Linked DNA regions of Homo sapiens. The protein of the gene in region 2 interacts with the protein of the main gene of each other region in a pairwise test. Each region holds a gene or a part of one and is shown on either strand. Other genes may lie near its edges.

Region 1 (3,656 bases), about 130 Mb from region 2:
TACAAGATAGGCAAAGTACTGATTTTAGTACTCAGCTATTTATTTGGTTTTTAAAAGTGTTGGGTGGGTGCGGTGGCTCATGCCTATAATCCCAGTACTTTGAGAGGTCAAGGTGAGTGGCTCACTTGAGCCCAGGAGTTCAAGACCAGCCTATACAACACGGCGAGACTCCATCTTTATAAAAACGCAAAAACGCAAAAAAAAAAAAAAAAAAAAAAAGCCAGGCATGGTAGTATATGCCTTTGGTCCCAGCTACTCGGTCAGCTGAAGTGTAAGGATCTCTTGAACCCAGGAGATGAAGGATACAGTGAGCTGTGATCTCGCTGCTGGACTCCAGCCTGGGCGACAGAATGAGACCCTGTCTCAAAAAAAAAAAAAAAAGTGTTTTGAAGATGAACAACGTAACAATATGATTCAAAAACAGAATGAGATTATTTCTAGCCACTCCTCTGTGCTGAGTGGGAGATCGGTCCTAAACAGCTCAAACTCATCAGTGATATGAACAGATATATGAAAGTGGAGTAGTCACACCATTTTAATCACTAAATGCAAAAGCTCTGAAAAAGAGAAGGCAACAGAGGAGATGGGGTGAGGGATACATTATTTTTGGTGCCACAATCCCATGACTCAAAGTGGGCATATCATCCTTAAAGGCAGCAGAGAAAAAAATATAAAGCAATCAAGGTCAGTACTATGACTGTCTTCAAAGGCCAGGGAAGACAAGTGCCTTGGAAGGCTCATCAGCTGAGACAATTTGATGTCGGTTAAATGTCAAATTAAAGATACAGAGCCTCAATATTCTCTAAAAGTTGATTAACTTTTTTCAAGCTTCCATTGCCAGGATGCAAGGTGAGAGGCTTTGAAAAGTCACTACTTAAGCATCTGAAGAAATCCACAGTGGAAAAAGTCTAACAAGGATATGTGTATCTACTGTTGTATGTACCATCCTACTTATGCAGCTTGCTGGACAGCCAACTTCTTTTTCTTCTGGACTTAATTCTTGAGCAAGAGCCAAGTAAAATAATTATGCCCAAATCTAGTAAGCCTGGGGATAAACTAATCAGTATATCTGAAGAGCACACTAAATTTTATGAAGAAAAGTAACCTAATTACAGTATTTCACTTAACTATGTTTGTGAAATTTCTACTTGCCCTCCAAACTCCACAAGATGGTAGCCTAGAAACAGATAAAACAAAGTGCACTTTATATACATAAAACCCCAAAGGGTTAACAGTATCAGTGGGGAGATCTGGGAGAAATGGCCAAAGAAAAAGATTCTAGGAACATAAATGCTTACAGAACATGGACTGGGTCCATGAGATATATACAAGCATATAACTAGTAAGAAAATGTAAATAATTATTTGTTAAACCTACCATTAAGATCAATCTCTAAATCTAGTGAGGTTCAAGAGAGGCCATGAGGAATCGATGTGAAGAAAAAGGAGACTATCAATGATAAAACAGGAAGCTTTTAAGCAAATAATGTGAAGTGAATCACGTTCTCTCCTGTTCCCCTCCTCAACCCAGCAGCAATTTAAAGGGATTTTCAAAACACCTAATGAAACTAAACTGCCAAGACTGCTCAGACAGGAAGAATCATAATGAAAGTTGGAGGAAAGTGCTTTTTCATCCCAGTGTGGCCGATTTTTAAAGTGTATTTTGTGAAAACCACAAATAGAAGAGTTTAGCTAATAAACACTTCACTGCACAGGTTAGTGAAAACATTTCAATTTCTCCTTCCCCAACACTCCTCTAAAACAATACAGAATCTATCACTTTCGTGCCAGGTCCAGGATTGTTAAAGTTAAAGCCTACCAAGATTACCAAAATGCTTTTAGGCTATGAGATTGCAACACAGGTATCTGGGGTTTCAGTTGCAGAACACATGTACAATCAAGGCAGCCAAGGGTCATGACAGCCTGCAGTGACTTTAATAAGCATAGCCCAAAGGAGTCTAAAACTAGGCTTAGAAAACATCATTAAGGAGGCAGAAAAAGCAGTCAAATGAAACCTCTGGAGATCAGATGTAGACAAGGGTCTGAAAAAGGAAATTGGGAAGTTGAGAAGAATGCAAAATTTAATCACTTTAAAAAGTCACTTTTGAGGAGCCCCAAGGACCAGAGAATTTTTCTCTGAAATAAAAATGGGAAATAATAACATATACACCAGTGCTGAGTTCTTAGTCCTAGTTTTAAGGCATTAAGCTGCAAAAATATGACAGTCAGGTACAATACTGCACTGCCTAAGCTTCACACAGCACTACAAGCAGAATCCAGTACATGAAGACAGGAAGCAGTCTTAAATACACAGTGAAAGGGTACTTCCTTCAGCCACCAGTAACACAGATATAAAATCATTCCCAGAAGCTTAAAACATATACCTTACTTAAAATTCGTATTATATTTACTTGCATAAATAACCATTTAACTGTAGCGATTTGGAATATATGTATACTTTAAACATAAATGTTTCTGCCTCCTTCTTCTACTTACCACATCTTATCTCCTCATTTTTATATTATAAAGTCAGTAATTCTCTGAGGGAAGGGAGTGGAAAGTATGGCAGGGTGAGAGGTAGGGGTAAACCATACAGAATCCCCTTAAGGCTTTTAAAAACTACATAGTACCCTAACCTCACCTCACCTGGAAAATCACTGCCTGCAATGAGATATTACTATCGGGAGTGTCTGGTGCACATGTGTCTAGGCAGACACAAGGAGAGAACCCAGCCCAGAAAACCAAAGGACCTTAGAAATATAAGAGTTAGGTACTTAATAACTTATGTTCATAATTTTTAAAGTACTTTCATATCTATCTCATTTGAGATAGAAAAGACTCCCTCATATAGTGGCAACTGTCTACTTTATCATAAAATAGCACAGAGCAAAATACAGCTGTTAATGTGTCAGATGAACCACTAAAACAGTAAGCTAAAATTTAGCACAACAGAAATATTTTTACTTGAACAGAACTTAAAGTTCTTTGGAAACTCTAAACCACTGTACAAATTTAAGATGGTATTACTACGGCCTACTAGACTGTAAACTCCTTGAAGACAATGAGCCATGTGTTATCCTGTATCCTCCGCAATTCCCTGAACAACGTAGGCACTTCATGAATGAAATGGACTAGCTTATATTCATTTATTAATTTACTCACTCAACATTTATTGAACACTGAATGTCGACTCTGTCAGGCTCTGGGCTGGGTCAGATTTTTTTAAAACTACATCGAACTTTAGCCCCTAGTAAGATGAAAAGATCACTATTCCTATTTCCTTTCTCCTATTTTTAATTATTAACTGGACTAAAATATTTCTATAGCATGTTTCACTTTTCAAATGATGTTTTATATGTATAAATGCAGATTACATTAACATAATGTCTAAAATTAATTTTCCTTGCATCTCACCCCGAAACAGAATTCCAAGACAGCCATGATACTCACAATAAATGATATCATTTGACAGTCACCTCAGTAACAGTTGTTGGACTGCAGCCCATGATTTAAAAGTGAGTCCACAACAGGATTTTTTAAAGCAAGACCAAACAGCAACTGACCCTTTGTTTTGGCTACTCAACTTTTGTTTACAGTTGCACCAAATCTTACAGTATTTCCTGCCTCCTTAAAAAATTAACCACACGTTAAACTGTG
Region 2 (3,756 bases):
GCATGTTTGTGTGTGCACCTGGAGATGTGCAGAAGTGTGTGTTTTTGCATGTGATGTGTGTGAGGGAGGAAGGATATTGGTGGGGCTAGGTCAGGAGGAGCAGACTGCACTCACAGAGAAAGAGAAGCTTGGAGAGACTGGTCAAGCCCTTGAAAGGGACCAGAAACAAAGAAGCTATGTTTATAAGAGACAGTTCAGACTTGGTCAGAAGCAATGCTGCTTCAGGCCAGTTGACATAGGACAGACAGAGTTGGGAGCAATGGTCCCTTCCCACTCCTGCCCCCATTAACCCCAATTCACTCCAGAGTGCCCCACTGTCCCCTGAGGTTCCAAGGCCACCAACTGCAGAGGACAAGGTGAAGAGAACAAGAGCCACTCAAGGAGAATAGGGTCCTCATAGAACAAGACACTGAGCAGATTCCTTGTTTTAGTCCTTTAATCAGCAGATGCACGCTGCAAATGACATTGAGTAAGCTAGGGGCTTAGACAGAGCGTGGGAGGGTAGCCACAAAGGTGAGGTCCAAGGCCAGTGAATGGAGATCCAGGAGAGGATCTGAGTTTCTGGACTCCAGGGAAAAGATATGCTCTTGGCAAGTTCAGAGCTTTCCCTTGGACCTGTGAGCCTCTCAGGCAGGCCTAGTAGGAGAAGGGGGATGTCCTTGGCAGTTTGCGGTCCTGGATTCTGCTCTTCTAGGCTCAGGGTCCACTTCAGCAGCAGCCTCCAGAGTGCTGGCCACTCCCCCCGCCACAGCAGCTGGAGCCCCCCGAGGGCTGGCTGCAGCAGCCAGAGCTCTGGGGTCTGTGGCAGTGGGACCTACGGCGCCTGTGGTGGCTCAGGCAGCAGCCACCTCCCCCAGAACTGCAGCATCCCCCAGAGCTGGAGCCACAGCTGCCCCCAGAGCTGGAGCCACAGCAGCCTCCGGAGCTGACACTGCAGCAGGAAGAGACAGGAGGGCACTTAGGGGGACACTTTGGGGGACACTTTGGGGTGGGGCACTTGGGAGGGCACTTGGGGGTGCACTTGGGAGGGGGCTGGCACTGCTGCTGGCTCTGCTGGCAGGACATCTTGGTGGCGGATTCAGGAGCTGAAAGAGAGTCAAACAGCAAGTCAGACCTAGGCAGAGGCCACCCCTGCCTATTCTTGTCCTTTCCACATTGTTTCTATTTCCTTTATTTTGATGAACTGTTCAAATGTCATGGTAAATCATTAATCACTGAAAATTTTGTTGTTTCTTGTAGTTTGGCAAATGCTCTCACACTGTATCTTTTGAGTTCACAATTTCATCTTAAGACAGTCAAGAATTACTATATCTTTTACAAAGAAGGAAACTGAGGCAGTAAGCCATATGAAAAAATATCTGTCAAGATTAAACATTTAGTAAATTAAAGGAAGCAGTTTTTCTCATTGTGTCAAATAAAACCCTGAAACTGTCCAGTGTGGAAACCTGGGGATATAAACATTTTCTTGGAAAAAGATAATGAAGGATTATCTCTTGGAGTAACTTCCTAGGAGACTTTGTCTTGTAAAAACCTGCGCATGTACAATTGTAAATGGTTTTGGAGACAGGCTGGTCTCACAGGCTCCCTTTGTTAAGGAAGATGCTGGAGAACAGTATTTTTGGTGCATAGAGGGGATCTGAACTCAGGTGCCCTGGCTCTAGGCTGGTGCACTGCCATATTCATCACGCAACGGCCTCACAGTAACATGTTGGCACAGTGATCCTCAGCTTGCTATGTCTAACTACTTTAAGAGATTCTCAATTCCAATTTGAATCTAGAGATAAGTGAGTTTCAAAAAGCCCTAAAAGATCCATTAATTATCTCTACTCCACTGATTGAGAACTACTATCTCCAGCTCAAATTTGCAAGGAGTGTCACAGTTTTGCTCTGAAAAGTAAGTGTCCTATTTGAAGTTGTTCTAGCAGAGTCTATTTGCCTGGGCTTCAACTCCCTCTGTCCTTAAAACTCAACTAGCTGAAGCACAAAGACAGAGACATCTAATTCTTATTTGTGTTACCAGTTGGCCCTCTCCCTGCCTCCTGAGCACATCCTCCTTCAATCTTTCTGAGGTCTTGACTTCTATCCAGATGGATCTCAGCCCTCAAGGTCCTGCCCAGCCTCCCCTCCTGCCTAGGGCTGAGCAACACTCTGTGGAAGCCCCAGCAACTATTCTCAAAGAACACTTACCGGGGTCACAGGCAGCACAGGGTCCTTCAGCACCTCGGGAGGTGAGTGGATGGAGTGCTCAGGCCCAGAGCCCTTTTATCCTGGCCTGGGCTCTGCCTCCAGCTGTGAGACAGGGCCTGGGCATGAGAGGACCTGCCTTCTGACACCCACATGGGTTCTGAGGTGGGTGGTGACTGGCAGCTCCTCACTTGCCTTCCTCCATGGGGCTCAGAAAAGCTGCTCCCAGCTTGGACTATGGCCACTTAGAAATAGAAATGGAGTGGGAAAATCCCTACCATCATTTCCTGTGTTGTTCTCCGTGGAGAATACCTAATCTGTTTAGTCTTGGAGCTTGAGTTCTCTGTTTTGTTAACTCCCAAATCTTACCTCTGTGGCTCTGGGCAACCTGGCTTAACTCAAGTTTCATAGAATCCTCCAACCCTCAACTATCTTATAGTTGTGTGTGTGTGTGTGTGTGAGTGTGAGAGAGAGAGAGAGAGTGTGTGTGTGTGTGTGTGTGTGTGTGTGCGTGTGCTTCTGTATTAAAGCCATTAGGTAACTGGTTAAAGAGTCAGACATAGAGAGAAACCTGATTCTGCCACTTATTACCTGCATGACCTTATGAAAAGCATTAATACCTCATCGTTCTTGTTCTCAGTTTGTCAACTCTGTAATAGAGATAATATAAAAACAATTGTCCAGGGATGGCTGAGAGTCAATGAAATAATGCAAAGGAAGTTTCTGGTGGAGAGCTTATAACATGTCATTTTCTCTAAACAAATGCCAATGCATTAATATTTTTAAATTATAGCTGCTTTCTAAGGAGAGATAATAGCCTCCAGCTCCATCCATGTTTCTTCAAAGGACATGATCTTATTCTTTTTTATGGCTGCATACTATTCCATGGTATATGTGTACCACATTTTCTTTATCTAGTCTACCATTGATGGGTATTTGGGTTGATTCCATGTCTTTGCTATTGTGAATAGTGCTGGAGTGAACATACACATTCATATGTCATTATGATAGAACAATTTATATTCATTTGGATAACGCTCCTTCTTCAACATCCAGGCTTTATTCCGTGACCTATGCATTTCTAAAACAGTGCCATTCAACTGTAACTTCTTTATGAGTCTTAATTTTCAAATATGACTACAGTAAACTATCCTTGATTCTGCAGCTTTGTTCTTATATTTATGTACCCCTCAACAGTTTCTACAACAGAGGTGGACTCCATAGGTAAGCAATTTAAAAATGAATTGATTACTATTAGCATCATCTTTACTTTGTGTATGACTTAAGCCATCATCATTGGAATTCTCACTCTGAGACATTTACATTACAGTATACTAGCCTTATCACCCTGCAGAAGTCTGCCACTGAATTACCTGGCTATGGCTCATGTTGTTCCAAAGAATGTATTTAATAATAGAGTAGTCAAGATATTGATTACTCAGCTTACATTGGCAGTTCTGATCCAGAAGCCCAGCCCATTCATTCCAAGGATGATGAGGATTAGAAGCTATTCTGTCCATGACTCTGATACCACAAAGGGTAGCACCCAAACTGTCAATTAATCTGACATGG

What was found. The genes of interacting proteins can lie anywhere in the genome.
Region 1: the proteins of LCE1C (region 2) and MACO1 interact in binary tests that used the Homo sapiens proteins (3 or more experiments, as listed by UniProt).

What each region holds. Positions count from the first base shown.
Region 1 is NC_000001.11:25,433,862-25,437,517, reverse strand, and holds part of MACO1 (macoilin), read right to left. Parts: intron 1-3,656. UniProt on the Homo sapiens protein: Plays a role in the regulation of neuronal activity.
Region 2 is NC_000001.11:152,804,414-152,808,169, forward strand, and holds LCE1C (late cornified envelope protein 1C), read right to left. Parts: upstream 2,239-3,756; 5' UTR 2,188-2,238; intron 1,086-2,187; 5' UTR 1,066-1,085; coding exon 709-1,065; 3' UTR 419-708; downstream 1-418. UniProt on the Homo sapiens protein: Precursors of the cornified envelope of the stratum corneum.